4 linked regions of the Homo sapiens genome follow. The protein of the gene in region 3 interacts with the protein of the main gene of each other region in a biochemical or structural test. Each region holds a gene or a part of one and is shown on either strand. Other genes may lie near its edges. The genes, in order: CUL1, JUN, FBXW7 and CCNE1.

Region 1 (7,933 bases), on a different chromosome or scaffold from region 3:
TGACTCAAGGTCACTGGCTTTAGGACCTACGGAAGGCTGAAACAGCAAAACAAACAAAAAACCAAGTTCCTAAGTTTTTAAGGCCCTAATATTTTTAATTTGAAGAATGGCAAGTAACAACTCCTCAATTTAAAGTACATTCATTTTAATTTTCCATGCTGAAAGACAGACACCACTGGGTATACTGGGAATGACATTCTGATGAATGGCCCTCAGAGACCAAGGGATGGTTCCTCCTACAGCAACTTCCTATCCCACTCCAGCAGAACCATGGGGCTTGCCTCATCTACAAGGAGGAGCCTTAACTACCAAACTGCTTCATTGCAAAGGCAAGGCTGGATACTCAACCTGGGGGGAAAAACCTGATCGTGTTTCCAAAAAAACACCAAACACAAAAAGTAAAAACATCCACACCTTAAAACTAGTTTTAAGGGGGAAAAAAGTTAAAGTTTCACAACCTGTTTTCTTGGCACTTTCCCAGACTTCCATAGGTATAGAAAACCTGGGCATTTTTCTGTTAGGGCCCTGTACTAGATACTGGGGTGTTTCAGGGAGAAGGGAAGTGAAGAGGGAAGGGGGAATAGAAAAGGAGGGATGAGAGAGACGATCAATTTTACTCGAGAAGTGTATAATAAAGCTTGAATTCTTAACCGGCTTAAGCACAACGACTGTGTTTTCTGTAGCCAAAAATCAGCGCATGTTTTCAAACGTTAAGTTTAAGTTAGAATTATTCCAGAAAACTCATTCATTAAAAAAAAGCAACTGAGGCACCACCACAACCAAGTTCTGTTACTCTGGGGACGCAAAAACAAATAAGGAATATCTCCTGCGCTGGAGGAATTCACAATCGGAAATGTATGGGAAATAAGGCTGTCATGTAGTTAATTACAGCTAGAAGATAATATTCAGTAAGTGGCAAGAGTCTAATGAACTGTAATATCTAAGGAAACCATGCAGAATCAGCTCAGGCATGCGTGTCTGTCTTCTGATGTGGTACACACATTAGGAGTGGGGGGTGGGGCTGGCTATAAGGACCTGAGCATGTGGCTCTCAGGGAGGGAGGCTTTTATAAATTGGTGAAAAACCCTAGCATATCTAAATTTGGTTTGTTTTTTGACAAAATCGTTTTTAAAAGATGAAGCCAATGAGAAAAAAAGTTTAACATATTTAGAAAGCAATTCAGCCATCCCTCTCAAGCTTAAGGAACACTCTCCTGAAACCTCCAAAAATGGGCATTAATAGAGTTAAAGCGAGCCAGTCTTGTGTTTGCATGCTTTGGAATTTGAAATGTAACGCAACTATTTCGACTCACCATGGAAAACAACAAATAGAACCTTCAAGTAAAACATTTTTCAATATCCAAAAACAAACCTTCTTTAAACAAAGAAAAATCTCATCTCCAAATATCTTTTTCAAACAGAATGACTGGTTTTACATTTTAAACATCATTACATATTTTACTACGTAATACACTCTCCAGGATTTCAGAAAATCGGGTACATTTTCGGGTGCACCATGAAATGAAGTGTTAAACTTAAAACTGCACACACTTCTGCGAGGCGTTAAGCTATGCTTAGGTCCTAGAAGCTCATGGCTTGAAGTAAAAAAGGAATCTAGTTCCTCTTCTGCCGCTTCGTTAAGTGCATTCCAAAAAGTGTGATCGTTTACTCCACTCAGAACTTTTGACGATTTTAATGCTACTACAGGAAAGAGCAATTACACAGAGCAAACAAATATTTAAGTAGACTGCAATTCAGTATTTGCGCACTTACCACTAACCCCTACTACGAACCAGAAGCAACCAAGAGTGACCCAATCGGAAAAGAGAATCCTCTTTTTGGCAAAGCCAGCCAGGGAGAAAACCCTAACTTTGGGGATTCATTTCAAGGAATGTCTACAAGCATTCCTCTCTTTCTTATCTTATGTCTGCGCTACACAATACTGCACGGGTGGCAGAAACGGGGGTCTTTCAGATCTTAAGGGAAAAAAAAGCGACGACCCCCGAGTCTGGGGACCCCAAGTCCCAGCGGCCTGGCGGGCGCACGGCTACCCTCAGGGTCAGGGCGCGCGCTCCCGTTGGGACCGGGGGCGCGCCGAGGCCGCAGCGCAGGGCCCGGCCCGACTAGCGAGCGATAGGCGGGCGCCGGGGGGCTCTGTCCGGTTCGGCCGCCGGGCTAGCATCCCTGCGCGCATGCCCCGGCCCGCTCTCCCAGGAGAACGGGGCAAAAGGGCGACTGTTACCCAATAATAGCGCCCTGCACGTTCGCAACAATGCAGGCGGGGAACCCGAGAGCCGCGGGCAGGGAACCGGAAAGCGAGAGAGCCCGGCTCCGCGGCTGCTCCTGCGCTTGAGCCCAGAGCTCACAGGGGAACACGCGTCGGCCGGAAAGCAGCGCCGGGAAGAAGCGTGGGCGCGAGGGGGCAAGGGCACGGGTCCCGGCGTCCCGCGGAGGTCGCCTCACCAGGCGAGGCGCGGACGCCCGAGCCGCCCCGGGCCACACGTCGGCCCACCCTCCGAGAACCCAGCCCGGTCGCGGCGGGGAAAGGGGCCGGCGCCACCAGGCCGCCGCCTCCAGGCGCGATGAATCGTGCTTTTTCCCAGTGCGTAGTCCAGGCCTGGCCGCCCCGGCCCGTCCGGGGTGACTCAGGGCCCGGCCCCGCTCGCTCCTCTGCCACCTTCGGCGTCCTCCGCCCACGAGTCCCCCGGCCCGGCCGCCATTCTGCCCGGCCGCGTTTCGGCGGCTCAGGCCTCGCCAGGCGCCTGGTTTCGGCCGTCGCGGCCCGAGTCACTGCGACACCGCGGCTCGGGGCCGGGCCTGCGCCGCCGCCGCCGCCGCCACCTCCTCTCGGCCCCGGCGGCTGCCGACACTCACCCGCATCTCTGTGGTGCCCCAAAGGCTCCCGCGACGCCTCCGCCTGGTCCCTGGGCCTGGGCCCCGGCGAAAGCCCCGTCCCGCCAAGGTCTAGCTGCGTCCCTCAGCTACCGGGGCTGCCCCGCCTGGAGCTGCGTGCGACACGGCGCCCGCCTCCTCCTCCTCCCCTGCCCGCCCGGCCCTCCTCCTCCCGCCGCCGCCGCCTGCACCACGCAACCTCCGCCCTCTCGCCTTCCCTGCGCGGCTCCCCGCCCTCTCGGCCTCACCGGCTCCGGCGACCGCGGGGGAGAAGCTGTTGGGGGAGGGCCGGAACGCACCGCCATCGGCGTCCGGGGCGGGGGAGCCGGGAAACCGTCGTCGCCATCGCCCCGCCAGCCCGAGGCGCGGGAGGGGCCCGGAAAGCTCCCTCCCGCCCGCTCGCCGCTGCCGGCGGCCCCGGGGGCGCCCCTTCCGCGGCCGAGGCCCCCGCTCGCGTGGGGAAGCTTCTACCTGCGAGCCTGCGGCCCCTGCCCCCGGCACCCGAGACATCCCCGACCCGGCGCGCCGGATTCTCTGCCAGGTTTTACAGCCTCCCTCGCCTTGGGACCGCCGCGGAGGACCCGTTCCCGCCACTTCGGACCTCGCGAGCGGGGCTGAGCTGCTTGGGTCGGGGACACCACCAGCCTCTGGAGAAACGGCCCGAAGCACCCCGAAGAAGAGGGGGTCCCAGTCCCCTGCCCCTCCCTTGTGCGCACCCCCACCCCCAGCTTGCCTGGAACCTGACTCCACACCTTTGTCGACCGGGACAGGGACTGGGGGTTGCACCCCAGATCAGAAAGTCAGAGGTGGCCCTCCGAATCGGCGCGGACTTCCGAGGAACCTCAGCCAATTCTCGACCCCCTTACCACCTGCAAGGCCTTAGGAATCGGCTCCAGAAAGCTCGAGCTTATCTGCGTGTTTCGTTTTAAAAATCACTTCTAAGATAAAACCTAACTAGGCTTTCCCCTTCAGACTTTCAGTAACTCCTGTTTGGCAAATTTTGACATTCACTCTATCCTTCGTCTTTGTAAGGACATATCAAGACTTAGAAGGCTTTGATTACACATACGGATGGCATGAGTCGTGATATAAAATAGTATTGTTTTCACGTGTACTTCGAAGTCATCTCATTTGAAATTAACTGTCATAATTGACTATTTGGAATATTCAACCTAAATACTACCCGCTGCTGTGGTGACGGGGGGTGGAGGAAGCGTGGTGGAACCCCAACACCTAGTGAGGGGTGGCTGATTAATACCACGGCTCACAACATAACAGAGCGGCTCATTCCATGAACAACCCCGGGGGGATTTCGAATTCTATCATCTGGGCAAAAGATGTGATGAGTGTAACTTCCTGTTTTCTCCAAACTAAAACACTACGCAGATTCCTGTACCGCTCTGGGACAGAAATCCTCAGCCAGAGCAGAGGCCGTCCCCAGAGTCCACACTGTTTCCTGCATAAAGTGGGTTATCTCAGAAGAAACATCCCACTGGTCTGTGTGATCCTTCTATTGAAATGTGGTCTTTTATCTACATCTAAGTATCTCTAGAAGTAATGCGTTTGTATGTACTTGTCACTCAGATATGTAATCCCTTAATTTGTGCGGGGTTTTGGGGTGTGAAAAATTCTTGGTTTATATCCTACACTTTTAAATAACCTCGTCAAAACTTACATGTATTTAACACCTTTTTTTGTGAGCACATGGTAAGGTTGGAAGTAAAAATGGAAGGTTTATCCCTGTGGCCCATGTTTTCCAGTGTACCTATGTGGGGTTTTAAAAAAATGTCCCAATTTCTTCCTTTTACTGGAGACTGCGTTTTTTAGACAACAGCTTATCTTCCTATTCCCTAACCAGTCTTCTCCAATCTTACCATTCAATATAGCCTCCTTTTCTGTGACTTCCTCCAGCTGAATAGAAGGGCTGAGTGGGTCAACCTTCCCTGTATTGTTTGTTTCCTCCACCCTCTCTTTTTCCTTAATAGCAGTATTTGGTCCACCCACACCACCCTCTCTCTTCTCACTGCCTCCATTCCTGGTTCTTAACTCCTTTCTATTCTTTACTCTCCACCTGCCTACACGATCATTCTTAGCAGCAAATTTATTCCATCGACTTTTACGTCCACTTAACATCCAGATTGCATTTACTTTGCGCAGATAACCTTGCCGCCTACCTCACAAGTCAAGGCCACCTGCTGCTCTCTTTCTACTTTAAAACATCCTTCCTCCATCTTTACCCCCCAACTCAGCAAAATTGATGTCTCTCTCGGATGACCCAAAGTTTGGAGGGATAATTAATTTGATAGATGTCAGAATCAAAGTTCAAAACAGTCTCAACAGGCTACAACATTAGGCCAAAAGCAATGAAATAAAATATAACTTTCAAATCTAAATATGATGTACTAGCTGGAAAAGCCCAAGTTTTAGATTTTAGACCTTGGTTTGTATCTAGTTACCCAAATTTGAGTCATATCCAGTAACTCAAATTACTATCTTTTGCTCTAGTAAGGTCAACTGTTAATTTGAGATAAAAATACCTACTTCATAAGAGTGTGAAGAGTAATTTATTTATAATTCCCACGTAATTCGTGGAACATTCACCAACCATTAGTTCCCCTCCCTTCCTCATCGTCCACAAAGTGGTTGTCTCTGTTGCCATTCATAACACATTCTTTAATTCATACAGACCTGGAAACAGACTCAAAATCCTGGCCCGTTCACCTTGTATCCCAGAGCTGTCACCATCGTAGAGAAATCGTTTGCCTCTTTTGGGTCAGTCATTATCATCATCATACCCATTTTTTCAATGAAAAAACCTAAGGCTCAGAGATGTTAGGCAATTTGCTCCAAATCACTCAGCCTGATCAGTGGCATAACCTGACCCAGTGACTCATGATTCTGTGTATATCCACTCCTTTACTAAGATATTCTCCCACACTTATGTTGGTCCTTTAGCCTTCTAAATGCTTTTCCTGGTTCTTATCTCTTTATCCTTCCACTTGTGTCCTGACTGATGGCAGATTATTCCTTCTAAACTGATACCTTCATCATTATAATTTTGTCCTTTCAAGCTTCAGTGGTTCCATATTGTTTATAGTGTTCAATCCAAATTTGGACCTGGCACTTAAGGTTTACCAGATCTTGTCCAAACTTGCATTTCCAAATTTATTTCCTGCCACTTCCCAGAAGGAACTCTCAATGCCATCCGGTCCTGTTGGTTGTACTCACTGGCCCACAGATGAGCTGTGAGTCGCCATTTATGAGGGCCTCCTTCAGTTGTTCCCTTAACAGATACCATTTCCCACTTCTTTCCTCCATCTCCAAATCATGCTCACTTTTCAAGATCCAGCTCACACCCCCTCCCAGGAAGCCCACCTTACACCTTCTACCCAAGCTTTGTGATCTCTCCCTGATTGCCTGTTCACATGTGCCTTTAAACTAGGTGGTCTGTGCTGTGGGGTGAGAGACAATTTCCTAAGGTTCACCTGCCCCCTCAGCACTGTGCCCAAAGAACACTGAAGCAGATTCCAAGCAAATTTGCTTACTACTGAAATGAAAGGGTACAGGTGTTACTTGATTAACCATATGAACTGTTATTTCTAAGACACAGGTAAGTAACTAGCCATCCAGCGCAAAGTGAATTAGCAGGATGGTTCTCAAACCTGGCTTTGCTTCAGAATCAGCTGGGGACTTTACTAATTCCGAGGGCCCTGTTCCAGATCTACTGAATCAAAAGTAGGTGGGAAGCAGCCGGGAGGGAACATGAAACTGCCAGAGTTTATATCCTGGCATCGTTGCTTATTATCTGGGGAACTTTGAGCAAGTTACTTAACCTCTCTGTGCCTCAGTTTCTTCGTCTATGACATAGGGATGATAATAATAGTAGCTTGGCCGGGCATGGTGGCTCATGCCTGTAATCCCAGCACTTTGGGAGGCCAAGGCAGGTGGATCACTTGAGGTGACCAGCCTGGCCAACAAGGTGAAACCCTGTCTCTACTAAGAATACAAAAATTAGCCGGGTGTGGTGGCATGCACCTGTAATCCCAGCTACTCAGGAGGCTGAGGCAAGAGAATCGTTTGGACCCAGGAGACAGAGGTTGCAGTAAGTGGAGATTGCGCCACTGCACTCCAGCCTAGGGTGACAGAGTGAGACTCTGCCTCAAAAAATTAATAATAATAGTATCTCATATAAGGTTGTTGTAAGTTAAATCCTTAATAAATATTACCTATGACAATGATAATTTTTCAATTAAACTTGTTTATTTAATCCAAATCATGAAATATACATTACTTGTGATTTTTTTAAAAAAAATAGTTCTGCTTATAAACGTAGTTACGTATATGCTGTAACTAACTATACAGAGTAATTCAACTAGATTAGTATCCAAAGGAAGCTGGAAAGAGATGAAATAATCGAACGATTTCTTATACCTAGATTTTTAAATTCTTTTTGAAGAAGTAGGTGTTTAAGTCCCCTAGTTTAATTTCTTTCTTACCTTCTGTCCTTTTTTTTTTTGAGACAGGATCTCACTTTGTTGCTCAGGCTGGAGTGCAGTGGCATGATCATGGCTCACTGCAGCCTCAACTTTTTGGACTCAGGTGATCCTCCCACCTCAGCCTCCCAAAGTGCTGGGATTACAGGCATTACTGTAACCCGGCCTAATCCCCTACTTTGGTTTCATTAAAAAGGATTTTGTAGCTAATTTTGGTCCATCAAATGCCAAATAAACAAGATTGTAATAATAGAGGTAACTAGATGTAAAGTATGATGCAGAAATACACTTACCAAAGTCACAAACTGTCTGAAGGGGAAACATAGTATTGGTAGACCTCATCCTCTCGACTCTTGACTTATAAGTTGCCTATGTAAACAAATACACAAAGGCCTTGTTTTTATTGCCTGGAATTCCACCAAAGATTCTTAAGTATCATTTCTTAAAGATGCAAATGGCTCTAGGAGGTAGGAGTGCTTGATAGTTGTTCACACATTGGCATTAACTAGTTCAATCAGGTTGCTTTTTTTTTTTTTTGAGATGGGTTTC
Region 2 (7,416 bases), on a different chromosome or scaffold from region 3:
ACTTTGAAATGTTTGACTTCTCAGTGGGCTGTCCCTCTCCACTGCAACCCCCCTTCCTCCAGCCTCCTGAAACATCGCACTATCCTTTGGTAAGCAATTCCATATAGATAGCTGGGGGAGGAGGAGTATAACCTGACCATAGCATCAGGTACATCAGGTACATTTATTTCTAAAGTCTAATAGAGAACAGTTTTTACTGCTTAATAGTAAGAAGCACTGAGAGTGATTTTAATCGACATTCTTAACTCTTTCAACTCCACCTAGATAGCTAGTATCTACAGATGATGCAGAAAAGAGGTTAGGGGAGTACTTTCCAATAGTTTATTGTATTTTCTTAAATATCCTTTCTGGAATTTTCAGAAACAAAACATAAAAAAATTATATACTTTATTACAAATGGTAAACTCAGAGTGCTCCAAATCTCTTATTTACAAACAACACTGGGCAGGATACCCAAACAAACAAACAAGAAATAACTTACAAAGGCATGAAGCTGTTTATTGACAGTAATCAGCTTTCATCAAATTAAAAAATATATATATGTACATACACAGTTAACGAAGGCAGGCCAGAAAGAGTTCATCTGTAGGCTCAGCCTCGCTCTCACAAACCTCCCTCCTGCCGCCCCTCCCCAACCCTCCCCCCGCTTTGTGTTCTTAAGGAGTACTACAGAAGCAATCTACAGTCTCTATTGCAGTTTGTAACCCCCTCCCCCTCCCCCCTTTAATACTGAATGAGATCGAATGTTAGGTCCATGCAGTTCTTGGTCAATGTTAACGAAAAGTCCAACGTTCCGTTCGCGCGGGGACAGCCCGTCCGCAAAGCGGGGCAGCCCGCAGGCGGCCGCTCCCTGGCTCCACGCCAAGGGAGGGCGCGCCAAGTCCTTCCCACTCGTGCACACTGGGGGCGCCGTCAGGACGCAACCCAGTCCAACTTGGATACCCTTGGCTTTAGTTCTCGGACACTTCTTTTTTCTCTCCGTCGCAACTTGTCAAGTTCTCAAGTCTGTCTCTCTGTGTTATTTTTTTTCTTCGTTGCCCCTCAGCCCCCGACGGTCTCTCTTCAAAATGTTTGCAACTGCTGCGTTAGCATGAGTTGGCACCCACTGTTAACGTGGTTCATGACTTTCTGTTTAAGCTGTGCCACCTGTTCCCTGAGCATGTTGGCCGTGGACGCCAGCTCCGAGTTCTGAGCTTTCAAGGTTTTCACTTTTTCCTCCAGCCGGGCGATTCTCTCCAGCTTCCTTTTTCGGCACTTGGAGGCAGCGATGCGGTTCCTCATGCGCTTCCTCTCCGCCTTGATCCGCTCCTGGGACTCCATGTCGATGGGGGACAGGGGCGGTGTCTCGCCGGGCATCTCGGGCACTGTCTGAGGCTCCTCCTTCAGGGCCTGCAGCCGCGGGTGCTGCACGGGCATCTGCTGGGGCAGGTGGTGCGGCGGCTGCTGCTGCTGCTGGGGTTGCGCGGGAAAGGCCAGGCCGGCCGCGCCGTAGGAGGGCGCCCCGCCGCCGCTGCTCAGCGCGCCTGGGTTGAAGTTGCTGAGGTTTGCGTAGACCGGCGGCTCGCTGTGCAGGCTGGCGCTGAAGCCGCCGCTGCCGCTGCCCCCTGCCACCGAGGCTACCGCGGGAGCCACCATGCCTGCCCCGTTGACCGGCTGCGCCGCCGACGTGACGCTGGGCAGCGTGTTCTGGCTGTGCAGTTCGGCCAGGGCGCGCACGAAGCCCTCGGCGAAGCCCTCCTGCTCATCTGTCACGTTCTTGGGGCACAGGAACTGGGTGGGGGTCGGCGTGGTGGTGATGTGCCCGTTGCTGGACTGGATTATCAGGCGCTCCAGCTCGGGCGACGCCAGCTTGAGCAGCCCCACGTCGGGCGAGGTGAGGAGGTCCGAGTTCTTGGCGCGGAGGTGCGGCTTCAGGCTCCCCACTGGGTCGGCCAGGTTCAGGGTCATGCTCTGTTTCAGGATCTTGGGGTTACTGTAGCCATAAGGTCCGCTCTCGGACGGGAGGAACGAGGCGTTGAGGGCATCGTCATAGAAGGTCGTTTCCATCTTTGCAGTCATAGAACAGTCCGTCACTTCACGTGAGGTTAGTTTGGGCTGCGCGCACAAGTTTCGGGGCCGCAACAGGGCTGTGGCAAGCGGGGGACACCCGCGCCCCCCGGAGCCTTTGACAGGGAAAGTTTCTCTAAGAGCGCACGCACCCGCTGGCTGTCGTCCCCGCTGCGCCCTCCTCACCAGCTCGCTCCAGGGAGCGCAGGGTTAATTAAGATGCCTCCCGCACTCTTACTTGTCGACTCGCGCGCGCTACCCGGCTTTGAAAAGTCGCGGTCACTCACTGAGCGCTCTTCGTGCGCAGCGGTTCCTCGGAGTCCGCAGGCGAACTCACTTCCCAGAGCAGCGGCTCTCCCCGCGGAGCGGATCAGTGCGGACCCTGCAGTGGCCGGCCGGCGGCGGGTCTTGGCCGCCCGGACTCCGACGACTTGTCCCCTCCTCCGCTGCTAGGGGGAGGGGGCGCCCGGCAGCCGCGGCTCGCGCTCGCCCAAGTTCAACAACCGGTGCGAGCGAAGCTGAGCGCACGTCCTTCTTCTCTTGCGTGGCTCTCCGCCGCCTTCTGGTCTTTACCGCCGTGGAGAAGCCTAAGACGCAGGAAAGGCTTGCAAAAGTTGGCTCCGGGACTCTGCCACTTGTCTCCGGTCCTCCCAGCCGGGAAAGTTCTTTGCTGCTGCAGCCGCTCGCCGACTTCCCCCGGCGGGCGCGTGGGTACCGCTGCTTTCCGCCGCTGTCAACAGCGCCTGGGCAGCAGGGCTCTCCTCCCGGGGGCGGCTGGAGACCAGGCTCTCTGGACACTCCCGAAACACCAGCCCGGGAGCCACAGGCGCTAGCTCTGGGCAGTTAGAGAGAAGGTGAAAAGAAAATAAGATTTGCAGTTCGGACTATACTGCCGACCTGGCTGGCTGGCTGTGTCTGTCTGTCTGCCTGACTCCGCGCACCTCCACTCCCGCCTCGCTGCTTCAGCCACACTCAGTGCAACTCTGAGCCCTTATCCAGCCCGAGCTCAACACTTATCTGCTACCAGTCAACCCCTAAAAATAGCCCATGATGTCACCCCAAGGCCTTCCCATTGGCTCGCGTCGCTCTCAGGGGGGCGGGCCCGCCCGTCACCATGGAGACTCCACCCTAGAAGATTCTTCTCTGGGCCCGCGGAGGCTCACGGGATGAGGTAATGCTCCGCTGCCCTCCTACAGTCGGGCCCTTCTTTCTCCTACCCTCCCCCCTGCCGCACGCCTCTCGGCCCTCTCTTCCCCGGTCCCCTCCCCGGGCCGTTTTTCCCGGCCCGCCCGGTGCATTGTGGGCTGACGTCTTGGGGTTTGACTGTCTAGTGACGGTGGCTGCCGCGAGCGGGCGGACGCTCGCAACCTCTGATGGAGGGGGGCTCAAGTTCACGGCTGCGGACGGGGATGCGGGGGATGCAGGGACCCGGGAGGCCAGGGAACCTGGCCAGTTGTTTTGGGCCAGGGGTGCGGGCGAGGGGTGGTTGTTGTTTCCCCACTTGTGGGGCCCGAAGTCATCCACCGGCGGCCGCCACCGCGCGGGGCTGGAGGCTGAGAATCCAAGTACGCTGCCACCCCCCCGCACTTCCGGGGGGGCGGGAATACCGCCCTTAAGGTGGCTCTGTGAAGTCCCAGGTGGGGGCGAGCCTAAGGGGACTTAAGTTTAGGGGCGGTCTCCCGAGAGTCGGCCCCCCACGTTGAGAACACTCCGAAGTTTGCATCTCGGTCAAGTTCAGGAGCGACGGTCCGCGGGGTCGTCTGGCTGCTCGTAGAAGCCGAGAGATTTGTATTGCCCGAAACTGGACGCTCAGCTGAGTCTCCGTTGCACCCCACTTCATCCTCCGGGACCGTGGGGGAAAGGGCGCGGGGGTTCACAGCTTTGCCTCGGAGGGGCAGTTTTTATAGTGGGCGCAATTGGTGGGTAACAGGGTCCAGATGGGAACAAGCGTGTAGGCGATCCGAAACTCGGGGAACCCCGGTGTTAGTCTACTCCCCCTCCCGCCCCCGGACAACACGCACACGCTTAACACAACACGCACAACATAACGCGCGCGCGCGCGCACACACACACTCCATCCGCGCCGAGTTGCTTCCGGGAAAACAAGCCCAGAAGGCGGCGGACACTCGCATAAAGTCACGCAGTAGTACTCGGAGCCCGGGGTAGAACCTGGACTTCAAATCTCTGCACTCCCGGCCGGGTGGTGGGCGCATATCCTGGGTAGCCTCTAGGAAGCGCTAGACACATGTAAGTGGTTCCTTTTCCGCGGTTATTTTATTCTCCCCCCGCCCCCCACCCCTTAGGGACGAAAGTGTGTGGTGGAAAGAATCCCGAAGTCGGGAATCCTGGTTCTTTCGTGGCCAGGCTACCACAGTGTGAAGCAAGCAAATCACGGAACTCCTCCGAGCTTCATTTCCCTCATCTGCAGGTGGGGCCGGTGCCGTCCACCTCACTGGGCTGCCAGGAGTTAGTGTGACAGGGTCGCCTGCAGCACTAGGGAGGTGGTGGCCAAACAGCCCGCTTCCCTCCCCTGCCTCGCAGTTTCCATCCTCGCAGAGCCTGGATAGGATGCCAGGATATAAGAGTGCGATTTGGCAGGACCAGGTGTACTTTCCTGTGAGAAGCATCGAGGGGAGGAGGGGAGGGGGAACCGGGTTAGAAGTCAGATCTTTCCCAAGCCTCTGTCTAAAACTGGGGCTTGAAGTTGGACCTGCAGCAGTTTAAGTTCCTAGGTTCTAAATTCAGACTTCGCTGCTTCTGAACTTGGAATTCAGCCTTGGGTTCATTGCCCCCAGCCCTAAGGTATTTGCGGCTTTGAGTGTTCAGAAACCAACAGCAGCTGGTATCAGTGGGAAACCTGCCAACTTTTCTTCACTCCGGGCACTCACCTAGCTTTCACTGATCTGCAGAGGGTAACTGAAAGCCTACTGTGAGCCAGGCACTGAGCTGGGGAGGGGGTGGGGTAGGTAGGTATACAGTGATGACAAGATCCAGTTGCTTCCTCAAGGAGAGAACATTCTCCTCTGTCTGTTGCCCTGAATCATTTTCTGTTGTATTCAGGGAGTTGGTGTTCTAAATATTTTTTAATAACAGTAATAAAAATCAGTTTCATGTATTAAACACTTATTATCTGCCAGGCATTCTCCTAAGCAATTTAAATACGCTGTTTTCTCCCCACAACTGTCTTGAGAGACATATATTATTATCCAGATTTAACATGTGAGGAAATAGGCCCAGAGAGGTTAAGTATCTTTGTTGAGGTCACACAGGCAGCTGGAAATTGACCTCAGGTCTGTGTTACATTCCTTTGTATTTTCTCTACTCTGGCAAACTTTCTTGTGGAGTATTAGTTATCTGCAGAGGAAATAGCGCTTGTGGCATAGAAGAAATTTTCTTGCCTGATCCTCTGACTGTAACTCCGTTCAGAGCTCTTGTATTTAGAAATTTCAAGACTTAGGACTTTGCATAAATATATATCTTTTGCCTAAGGTTCTGTGTGTTCCTCTCTGCCTCATGTGGTTTAGTAGGCTGATCTTCTCCTTATGTTGAGAAATAGCATATTTCATCCAAAAAAATAACAAATCTGTTCATGTTAACGCCCCTGCTTGGAAGCCTTCATTGGCTTTTCCTTACAATCAGGAGAGTTCCGATTCCTATGCCTTGGAGAAGGGGCTTTTCACAATCCAACTCCTTCTCTCTCCAGCCTTATCTCTCACTCCCAGTTCTGTCAGGAAAGGCAGTGTTATGCTGCCCTAACAAACAACCCTAACATATCAGTGGCTTATTCCAGTGAAAGTTGGTCATTTCTGCTACATGACCGTTGTAGGTTGGCAGGGTAGCTCTGCTCATTGTAGTCACTAAAGGGCTCAGGCTGAAGGAGGCCTCGTGTTGATACCCCTTTTCACAGCTATCCTGACTGTGGGGAAGGAACTCGGAACATCATGGCTGTCAGAGCATCCACTTATGGCACACATCACTTCTGCCCATACATCATTGGCCAAAGCAGTCACATGGCCATGCCTCTTTAGATCACTATAATCCTACCAGGTGTCTCAAAGGGCTCTCCAGGAATATTTGGGGAATAACACTAAAGACTCTGTCTCCCTTTCTGTTCACCAAATGTTTGGTCTACTCTCCTTCCCCTGGTGGAATTCCCTCATTCTTTATTCAAGGGAAACAACCTTAAAGACCCATCCAGTCACAGCACCAAGCTGCCCTGCCCATTGTTTTCCATGACTCCTGGATTTGCCCTCGGAGAGTCTTCCTTTTCCACAGCTAAAGCAGGCATTGGAAAATATGCTTTTAAATAAGCTTTTAAAAGTTGGGGAGATGCAGAGTGACATTAAGTCTTGAATATGTGTAGGTAGGCTTCTTATCTATCTGATATGAGGTGTTCCATGTGACAATAGCCACAAAGTTCTTTTCCAGACATACTTCTTTGGTTTGCCATATCTCTTTGCTTTCCTGCTCTCCTGCCTGTTGACTCCTCTGTCTCTCTTTTGCCGTCTCACTCTCTTGCTCTTCACTTGATTTTGAGCACTTTGGGCTTATTGGGTTTTGATGGGAGAGTTAGACCTTTCTTCCTTTTCCCAGAGCCATTTTGTCCAGTTGAAAGTATATACTGGGTAAGATCTTAATTGATCCTTTTTTTTTTTTTTCTGAGACGGAGTTTCACTCTTGTTGCCCTGGTTGGAGTGCAATGGCACAGTCTCGGCTCACTGCAACCTCTACCTCCCGGGTTCAAGCGATTCTCCTGCCTCAGCCTCCTGAGTAGCTGGGATTACAGGCATGCGCCACCACGCCCGGCTAATTTTGTATTTTTAGGAGCGACAGGATTTCTCCATATTGGTCAGGCTTGTCTCGAACTCCCGACCTCAGGTGATCCGTCCTCCTCGGCCTCCTATCCTGAGGTTTTAATAGTAGGTTCATACTTTGTGACTTGATCCTTACTTCAAAGCTTAGTTTCTTCCAGGTCCTTTCTTGCTAAAAGTATTTCTTGATTTTATATTTTACCAGTCGGGACTGGGAAACAATTGCCTCTTCTAACGATGTAAATCCCTGGATTTATAGGTTTTCTCTATTCCATTTCATTCCTGATTGCAAACAGGCCAAATTTTTCTGAGTTCATCTTTGAATAGCTTGTAGTAACTTTCAGAATGCATCCAACAGCCACCAACACACACTACTCACTCTCTGTTTTACAATCCTTTTCTTTAGTTCATCAGGTTCATGATCTGCCTTCTACATTATCACAGGTGATATGTTTACCAAACAGATCACCATCCCTTCAGCTTCTGATAGCAGTGTTCTTAGTTATCGCCCTCTAAATGATTGTTTAGTTTTATTGTTGTTATGCTTATTGTTGTTATT
Region 3 (7,035 bases):
TATTAAAGATATATTTAGGCAGAAACACGCATAAAAAAGGTTATGCATTGATCAGTTGGCAACAGTGTTGTGACCAGAGGCTTGTGAGAACTGTATTTCCCCTAGGAGCAATGGCTCAGTATTTGTTAATTCAGTGGTTGCAGCAATTTTATAGAACACAATTACTGTGAATGGGAATCAACTGTATTTGATTAACGGTGGTGATTTATAGGGACTTTAGATACCAGAAATGTTTCATAATTCCCTTTCTCTGAAATCACTGTTTTAATATGTTTAAATGCATGCATGCAGAGTTGTGATGTTAAACATAATTTTACTGTGGGTTCTGGTCAAAAAAGATGAAATGTCATTGGTTAACTTGAAAGAGACATTATTCTAAACATTATCCTCCAGAAAATTGACATGTACAGGAAGCATATTGAATGCTCAGCAAATAATTTGTTTTAGAGTAATAATCTTTGAGTATTGTAGTGATTCGAGTTTTGGAAAAGAAGGCAGTATCAGTGTTAGAGAATAATATTCTTTCAGGATTTTATGTAGTTACTTTAAGGTGCATGAAAGGAGACTCAGTTGGGTGTTAAATTCTTGTCCCTGCTTTACTTGAAACTAGTAATCTTGAGAAATTTACTAAATCATTTTGAGCCTTGATTACCTTGCCTGCAAAGTGAGGAACATTTTCAATTTAAAATTCTATTTCTTTTATTAGTATTCTTCCTGACCTTGAATCATTTCTATTCCCATCATGTCCAGTTGCCAAGAAAACCATGCAACTTAATGTTGTTTGTTAGCCATCAGATTTTATTTTACTGAACTCAAGTTCAGTCACATCAGTTACCGATAAAATAATAAGTTCTATATTAATATTTGATATATCTTGACATTTTGTATTATGGTAGGAAGAAATAAAAGACCTTCCTCAAATTTTAGGATATGGGCTTCTGTTTGTTGATGTTTGTGTTTTATGATACACTGTTGTAAATCATACTAAAGGTTTTCTCTGAAAAAGACTAGAATTGACAATACTTCATTTGTTAGCAGTTTCAAGTTTTAGATCACGGGTGCATAATTTCTTGTGTGTGCACAACATGTTGGCATTTTATCTGACTTCAAAGATGTCCATATAGATACCAGCAAAGGATAAAATGTAAGAATGAATATCATGAAAAGATGCTGTATCAGATAAAATTCTAGAGCCTAGGTTAAAAAACATAAAGGCAAACATGCTTGATATATAAAAATTGAGAAATATGATAAAAAGAAGTAAGTTTAAAGCATCAGTAATACCACTGCCTAAGATGCAGTTTATTTTGAAATGTTGTCTTCTAGTCTTCATACAGTTTAAAAATCATACTATAATCACAATTTCCAGCATTTTCCCCTTAGCATAATATATTATAACATCCATGTTTTTAAAAATATTTTATGAACGTCATGTTTAGGGATTACACCATATATATCCCATCTCATAGATTCCTTTATATTGAACATTTGGATTTTTATTTACATTTTTATTTACATTTATTTTTATCTTTATTTTTTGCTTTCGTGGATAAACTGCAGTGAGCATCCTCTGTATAAATTTTTTTTTTCTGTTTTAGGATTACTTCCTTAGGATAGATTGCCAGAAGTGGAGTTACTGGGTCAGAGGGTATGAACTTATGAACTTTTTTTTTAAATAAATTTTTTGTTCATTTTCTGTCCAGTCATTTGTAAAAAAATTAAAATAATAATGATTATAATTGTTACCTGCTAGAAAACTGTGTCTGAAGGCAAGATTCTGTGATCAGAAAAGTTTGGGAAATACCCAGGGTAAAAAGCCTTTTAATCTGATTTACCTCAGCATTTCCCAAATTAACTGAACACTGAAAATTTTTTTTGATACACTTCTTAAAATTTTGTGGAAGTTTTATATAGGATATAGTCTATGAACTACTGATGTAAAATTAAAATTGTTTTATTTGCTTGAAATATTATGTTTTATTGGTCAAAGGAATTAAACTATAAATCTTCATGCTAAAAATTATTAAAAGGGATTAGTGTTGTTTACTATGGTTTTTGTGCATGTCTTTATAAAGTCTTATAACTTTTAAAATTGAAATGTTCTATATTGTTTACTAAAGAACATTTTAATGCCTTGGTGGCATCAATACTTTTTTGCAATCATTAATGATATTTAGAAAGTAGACATATAACATGAAAGTAGAACATAATATAGATTGTACAAATCTTGTTTTTTACCCTATTTTCCCCTGCAGAATGTGAAAACCTTTGCATCTTCTGATAGTCTAGCCAAGGTCCAAGAAGTAGCAAGCTGGCTTTTGGAAATGAATCAGGAACTGCTCTCTGTGGGCAGCAAAAGACGACGAACTGGAGGCTCTCTGAGAGGTAACCCTTCCTCAAGCCAGGTAGATGAAGAACAGATGAATCGTGTGGTAGAGGAGGAACAGCAACAGCAACTCAGACAACAAGAGGAGGAGCACACTGCAAGGAATGGTGAAGTTGTTGGAGTAGAACCTAGACCTGGAGGCCAAAATGATTCCCAGCAAGGACAGTTGGAAGAAAACAATAATAGATTTATTTCGGTAGATGAGGACTCCTCAGGAAACCAAGAAGAACAAGAGGAAGATGAAGAACATGCTGGTGAACAAGATGAGGAGGATGAGGAGGAGGAGGAGATGGACCAGGAGAGTGACGATTTTGATCAGTCTGATGATAGTAGCAGAGAAGATGAACATACACATACTAACAGTGTCACGAACTCCAGTAGTATTGTGGACCTGCCCGTTCACCAACTCTCCTCCCCATTCTATACAAAAACAACAAAAGTGAGTATATTCAATATATTGTTAACCTGAGAAACTTTACATATCTATTTTAATTGTAATGAAACTTTCCTCACAGTCTTTGTATTACTAAAAATTAATCTTAAGATGTGTAATAATAAAATGAACTAGTTTTTTGTCTTACAGAAGGTAATGGAAAGTATTACAAGTAGAAATACTGATAATGGGACAATCTGAGTACAAATGGAGGGAAAGTAATTGAGCCTATTACTATGAAAAATTATTAACATCAAATTTTCGTCTAAACCTTGCGTCCCGGGCAGGGATTAGTAGCTTGTGTGGGGTGTAGAGGTTTCGGGTGAAACATGATTTGTGTAAATCAAGTAATGAAGAAACTTTTTATTTACAAAATGCAGCTGCTAGAGTGGGCTATTCACAAGTGTCACTCTAAGGCATAAATTACTCAGAAGTTGCCTCAAATTAGTTCTAGTTATTTATCATTTGAGAATTAGAAATAATGAATATTCATGTAGAGTAGACTTACAAGTTAAACTATGTTTTGGAAAGGAACATTTTAACTTGAATATACTTGTTTTATAGACATTAACATAATGTCTGTGGTAGTTCATCCTCTTACTCCTACTTGCTTATTTCTTACATTTTACAGTGATTTTAGGCCATAAACAATATACAAACTGATTTAACATCGTATCGTTTAACCTAACTTGACTTGGAATGAAGTATCTTACACACTTGGATTAATAATAATTGAAATGCTAAATCATGTTTTACATCTGCTTGTAAAACCTTACTTTCTAAAATGTGTTTGGCCCTAATTTACCTAGCCTATCTGCAAGTCAGATTTTATTTAGCTGGCATGATCTAAGAAGGACGTGACATCAAGTAGTGATTTTTCATCCATTGTACCATCCCTGTCTCAAGATGTTGAAGCAGTAGCTTTGGATCTCAGCCAGATGGCTCTACCACTAACAACTATAGCACCACTTTGTTAAGGCTCAGACCTTTTATAGTGTCATTCCTCCCTTTTGCCCCCCTAGTCTTGATCATCTTCTTCAAGGTTGCTATATCAAAAGGGAGTTTTAACATCTCTTTTTTTCCTGAGGGTTCAGTTAGAGGAATAGGGGTTTAATACTTAAGGTCCAATTGCACTAACTTATTTCAGAAAGAGGTTCAATCAAAACTAAGCCTTGCGGAACAATGCAGAGTTATTGCTGATTTCTGCTACACTTTAAATTAAAAGCAAAAAAAGCTAGTTAGACAAAACATTATCTTTTTCCAAAAGGAAAAGTCATCCTTATATTCTGTAGGAAACCTTCCAGTTCACAAGTTTGACAGGTGCTTTATCTTTTCTTTACCTTCAAGATGTAAAATTTTGTGTATGATGATTACCTTTTTAAAAACGAAGTATACTGAATTTGTTAGTTTTTTTCTAGTGATTCTGAATCATGAATAACAATTATTGTCCTGTACATATAACAAGAATGGACTGGGCTCTAACCATAGAAGGAATACATGTGTGTATGCATTTATGTATATACACATGTACAGTATAGATGTGTGTATGCATTTATGTATATACACATGTACAGTATAGATGTGTGTATGCATTTATTATATAAGTGTGTATGTATAGTTTTTGATATATTGTTGATCATGAGATGATCTGCCTTCGTAAGTATGGCATGAAGAATACAAAGCTATTTGATTGCCAGGACAGTGATACCCTTCTACAAGTAAGATTTCAGTCTGAAATTTTTCTAAATGTTTTCCTTTTTGTCCATTCCTGAAACCCTTCTGCCAGAGTATTCCCAGAGCACTTTCAACAGCATTAAAAAAAGTCACTGAGTACTGCTTCACCTAAAAAGAAAATGTCAGTATTCTCCGTGTATACATGTTTTAATACAATAAATAGAAGCTCTCACTAGTTGAAGTACTTTATTTTGGAAGAGCTTTAAATTCTTGATCATTATAAAGTTAAGACACTTCTACAGATGTTACCCTAGACCATAGTTTCATTCAAGTCTTCTTTGACTTTTGAGAGTAGAGGCATAAGAAATGAAATCCCATTTTAAATGTTAACATAGGATTAGCTTTCTACAAATTTTACTCAGGATACCTTTCAAGTTTTATTTTTTGGCATTCTCATAAACAAACCCTGTGGACAGCTAGACTGAATTTTACCCATCATCCCTAAATATGCTGCATAAGCAAATATATTAATGAGAAAAAAAGATTTTTAATTCTTCCTTGCATTGCTTTATTCTTTGAAAGCATTCTGAAAACTGTCAACACTCTGAGGACAGTTTTTCCCCCCTTGTCACTAAAGGTTTGTTCTTTTGGGAGCCTTATGGCAAGCAATATATGTTAAAAATTCCATGTTGTCTTAATGTTAAAAGTCAAGGGAAGTGGTAGTCAAGAATTGCTATTTATTAAGCTCACACTGTTTGAAAGATCCTACTACAGATACATAAACAAAAGTTACAGAGAGGCCGAATGATCCACCCCAGATTACACTACGTGATGAGAGATTTTAATCCTGATTTGCCTAATAGCAAAAAACCCCTTTCTCTTTCCACATGCTATGCTGCCCCCTATGGTTGAATTTGACAAACATCACTGAACAAGATTTCCAACATAGTCAGAGACTCTGCCATGTGATGATTTTCTGATACTATGTCCCATTTGAAGTGATAAGAGCTACCCTATAGAAAGGACAGAGGGCTCAGTTAACTACTTTTCTTTGTGGCACTTAACAAAACATTATTGAAGATTTTACAGCTCAAGGCTAAAGTAATCAGGAACAAATGACGCTGTTAAAAAATTTTATAGAGGTCATACTCTCTTGAATCCATAAAACATGCTTTTAAAGCAGAGGTTGTGTGCTGGCTATTCCTCTAAATCTTGCTTCTCCAGATACAAATGTCTGTCTCTTCAGTTTTAACTCTCATTCTCAACATCCTTATCATATTTTTTTAAAAAAAGTTGTTTTCTGAAGATATGCCCAGCTCATATTGAAGAATCTTTGACATATTTTATGCAGAATATCAACTAATTTTCTACTAACATGAAAAACAAATGAGATGATTATTAGGCCAGATCTGGTATCCTGATCTTTTGATGAAGAGAAGTGTGTTTGAGCATTAATTTCTGATGCTTCCATATCTATCTTAGTGGCTTCCACCTGTTCTCTTCTCACATAACTTCCTTACCTCAAATTAGTCTATTTTTTTCCCATCTTGATTGTTAGATTCTTCCTAGTAATTAAATCGTTTTTATCCATTTGCCTCAAATAAGAAATAAATGTTTATCAAAAAATAAATATATATAAAAGATAGCCAGGTGTGGTGGCTCACACCTGTGATCCCAGCACTTTGAGAGGCTGAGGTGGGCAGATTGCTTGAGACCAGCCTGGGCAACATGGCAAAACCCTGTCTCTACAAAAAATACAAAAATTAGCTGAGTGTGATGGCATGCGCCTGTGGTTCCAGCTACTTTGGGGGCTGAGGTTGGAGGATCATTTGGGCCCAGGAGGTTGAGGCTGCAGTGATCTGGGCCACAGAGCAAGACCCTGTTTCAGAATAAATAAATAGAGGGTGGGGGGAGGTGTGGAGAAGCATCTAGTGTATTGGAGTTTAGAGGCGTAAGACCCTTTCTTGTCTATAAATTCTGAACAATAGAGGAATCAGGTAATAGGATCATTAACCAATCAGGGTATCTGGTCCGCCATTCTCCAACCACCTCCTAGGACCAGAGCTGCTGAGCAGCTTTGTAGGATAATGTGGCTAACATTGGAAATATAACAGGGCTCTAAGTTACACTCTGTTGTAGAGTTCTAGAGAATGATAGCTTCTTCAGAAAGTCCCTGGCCTAGTCTACCTGCAAGACAAGCAACTTAAGTTCAAAGTCTGTTTGGTATATACATGTCCAGAGAGCAAAAAATGCTATTTAAGGCAGTCATCTTGAATAACATCCACTAGTAAACATGGCCCAATGAATAGCCATGTCCCCTACCTTTGTGAAGGAGGAAAAATGAAACATTGACTCAGCCTAATTTAGCCCAATTTTAAACATGTGGGGAGGATAATGGAAATGGGAGAAATGGGGACAATGGGTGAGATGGGTTTTCCCCTAACATATTAGAGTGATAAGAACTTTTCACATCTGAGTTTGAATTCTGATTATACCACTTACTGTATAACCATGAGTATATAATCTCAGTGAACCTATTACT
Region 4 (2,857 bases), on a different chromosome or scaffold from region 3:
GAAGCCCACGTCTAAAGTTTCCTTTCCATCAAATACATTGAAAAATGTATTTGACCAAAAGAGTTAAGACTCAAGGCTGGGTGTGGTGGCTCACACCTGTAATCCCAGCACTTTGGAAGGCTGAGATGGGCAGATCACCTGAGGTCAGGAGTTTGAGACCAGCCTGGCCAACATGGCAAAACCCCATCTCCACTAAAAATACAAAAATTAGCTGGGTGTGGTGGCACACGCCTGTAGTCCCAGCTACTTAGGAGGCTGAGGCAGGAGAATCGCTTAAACCCGGGAGGCAGAGGCTGCAGTGAGCCAAGATTGTGCCCCTGCACTCCAGCCTTGGTGACAGAGCGAGACCCTGTCCCTGTCTCAAAAAAAAAAAAAAAAAAAAAAAAAAAAAAGAAAGACTTGAGCCTCAAGAAGTATGAAGTCAAAAAACAGAAGTTGATATAACCACAATTAAAGCTGACTGCTACCTTAAGTTACCAGACATAGCTCATAAAACCAGCTGTCTCAAAAACAGTATTATCTTTATTAAAAAATGGATAGATATAGCAGCACTTACAAAACAGTTCATCAAAGGCATTGTACACTGTCAACTGATAATGTGGAGAGGGCAGCCCCCTGCCCAGCTGGCTATGGGCTCTGCACAACGCTTGCCCGCAACCACCTGCTCCACTTGGTACAACGGAGCCCAGAACACCTGCGAGGAGAGCCACGCCACCGTGGCCCTCCACAGCTTCAAGCTTTTGTTGTTGTGGGAGTCCCTTAGGTCAAGTAGCACCTTCCATAGCAGCATCGGGAGCACGCACTGGTGTCTGGAGGTGGCTGGTGTACTTGACCCACTTATTTAAAAAAAACCTATAAGCATTCAATAAAAAACACTTTGCCCTGTTTGATGCCATCCACAGAAATACTTCTGTTGTGGAAGAAACACTCTTCCATTCAGATATCTGTAAAAGCAAACGCACGCCTCCGCTGCAACAGACAGAAGAGAACGTGGAGCAGGCGCGCAACTGTCTTTGGTGGAGAAGGATGGGGTGGTCACGCCATTTCCGGCCCGCTGCTCTGCTTCTTACCGCTCTGTGGCGGGGTGAGGAGCCCACTGGGGAGAGGAGAAGCCCTATTTTGTTCAGACAACATGGCTTTCTTTGCTCGGGCTTTGTCCTGTTGGTAAGAATAAAAGGGACAACACATTAGAGTAGAACATATCCTTGGGCTTCAATTACCATAGGCTTTTTCTTTTTTAATTTTTAAATTTTTTTTTTTTCTCAAGATGGAGACTTGCTTTCTCATCCAGACTGTAGTACAGTGGTGGGATCTCGGCTTACTGCAACTTCCACTTCCAGGGTTCAACCGATTCTCCCGCCTCAGCCTCCCAAGTAGAGTAGCTGAGATTATAGGCACCCGCCACCATGTCCAGCTAATTTTTGTATTTTTCATAGAGACAGGGTTTCGCCATTTTGGCCTGGCTAGTCTTGAACTCCTGATATCAGGCGATCTGCCCGCCTCCGCCTCCCAAAGTGCTGGGACTACAGACATGTGCCACCATGCCTGGCTAGTTTTTAAATTTTTTAGGGACAGGGTCTCCCTATGTTGTCCAGGCTAGTCTCAAACTTCTGAGCTTAAGCAGTCCTTCTGCCTTGGCCTCCAAAAGCCACTGTGTCTGGCCACTATGTCTTTTTCTACGGAGGTGAGTGAAAGAAAAAAAAATATCAAAGAGCACTTTAAAACTCTATAGTCTATATGATAGTGAGATACAGCATCAATTTGCCAGGATTTTTCTTTTTCAATTAATTAAAATTGGAGTTTTTCAAGGATATTTGGGGCCTGCCTGAAGAAAAGTGAACAGGTTATTTAGGCAGTTTTTTTTTTTTTGAGACATAGTTTCGCTCTGTTGCCCAGGCTGGAGTGCAGTGGCGTGATCTCAACGCACTGCAACCTCCGCCTCCCGGGTTCAGATGATTCTCCTGCCTTAGCCTCTCGAGTAGCTGGGACTACAGGTGCCCACCACCATAGCCGGCTAATTTTTTTATTTTTAGTAGAGACAAGGTTTCACCATGTTGGCCAGGCTGGTCTTGAACTCCTGGCCTCAAGTGATCGGCCCACCTCGGCCTCCCAAAGTGCTGGGTTTACAGGCCTGAACCACCGCGGCTGGCCTATTTAGGCAGTTTTAAGAATTTGGCCAAGAAGGACTGAAAGAAGGAGCAGCACTGACCAGCAAATCCAAGCTGTCTCTGTGGGTCTGTATGTTGTGTGCATCTTCATCAGCGACGCCCCTGAAGTGCTTCAGTTTTGAGCTCCCCGTCTCCCTTATAACCATGGCAAATGGAACCATCCACTTGACACAGTTCTCTATGTCGCACCACTGATACCCTGCAGTGAAGACATCGTGGGCTTAATCTGAGGCTGACAACTGGATGTAAGCTTAGTACACCTTGTTTGTGCATGCACTGGAAAGCCAACTTACCTGAAACCTTTTGCATCAATTCAGATGACGAGAAATGATACAAGGCCGAAGCAGCAAGTATACCATAAGGAAATTCAAGGCAGTCAACATCCAGGACACAGAGATCCAACAGCTACGGAGAAGAAAAGAACGCTGAGATGGATGCCACCACACGCCTATTCTAGAGTTCCTCACTCCAGCTGCAGGGAAGGTGGCCCCACGGACGTGATGGAGCCACTTACCTCTGCAATCTGTATAAAGATTTGCTGGGGATACTGCGGCAGTAGCACTTCATGTAAGTCATTTAGATATGCAACCTGCATGTATACATTCAGCCAGGACACAATAGTCAGGGGACTTAAACGCCACTTAAGGGCCTAAAGGAAAACAGAGAGAAAAGAGACCGATGATTGAGAA

The links.
Region 1: the proteins of FBXW7 (region 3) and CUL1 form a complex in vitro, tested with the Homo sapiens proteins (3 studies listed by BioGRID).
Region 2: the proteins of FBXW7 (region 3) and JUN form a complex in vitro, tested with the Homo sapiens proteins (3 studies listed by BioGRID, with this or other methods).
Region 4: of the proteins of FBXW7 (region 3) and CCNE1, one has a biochemical effect on the other in vitro, tested with the Homo sapiens proteins (18 studies listed by BioGRID and IntAct, with this or other methods).

What each region holds. Positions count from the first base shown.
Region 1 is NC_000007.14:148,693,970-148,701,902, reverse strand, and holds the start of CUL1 (cullin-1), read right to left. Parts: upstream 3,001-7,933; 5' UTR 2,874-3,000; intron 2,194-2,873; exon of another isoform or gene 1,773-2,193; intron 1-1,772. UniProt on the Homo sapiens protein: Core component of multiple cullin-RING-based SCF (SKP1-CUL1-F-box protein) E3 ubiquitin-protein ligase complexes, which mediate the ubiquitination of proteins involved in cell cycle progression, signal transduction and transcription.
Region 2 is NC_000001.11:58,781,013-58,788,428, forward strand, and holds the start of JUN (transcription factor Jun), read right to left. Parts: upstream 3,036-7,416; 5' UTR 2,059-3,035; coding exon 1,063-2,058; 3' UTR 1-1,062. UniProt on the Homo sapiens protein: Transcription factor that recognizes and binds to the AP-1 consensus motif 5'-TGA[GC]TCA-3'.
Region 3 is NC_000004.12:152,407,093-152,414,127, reverse strand, and holds part of FBXW7 (F-box/WD repeat-containing protein 7), read left to right. Parts: intron 1-1,598; 5' UTR 1,599-1,648; intron 1,649-2,255; 5' UTR 2,256-2,324; coding exon 2,325-2,825; coding exon of another isoform or gene 2,826-2,855; exon of another isoform or gene 2,856-2,968; intron 2,969-7,035. UniProt on the Homo sapiens protein: Substrate recognition component of a SCF (SKP1-CUL1-F-box protein) E3 ubiquitin-protein ligase complex which mediates the ubiquitination and subsequent proteasomal degradation of target proteins.
Region 4 is NC_000019.10:29,821,956-29,824,812, reverse strand, and holds the end of CCNE1 (G1/S-specific cyclin-E1), read right to left. Parts: intron 2,818-2,857; coding exon 2,683-2,817; intron 2,574-2,682; coding exon 2,462-2,573; intron 2,368-2,461; coding exon 2,210-2,367; intron 1,159-2,209; coding exon 1,036-1,158; 3' UTR 501-1,035; downstream 1-500. UniProt on the Homo sapiens protein: Essential for the control of the cell cycle at the G1/S (start) transition.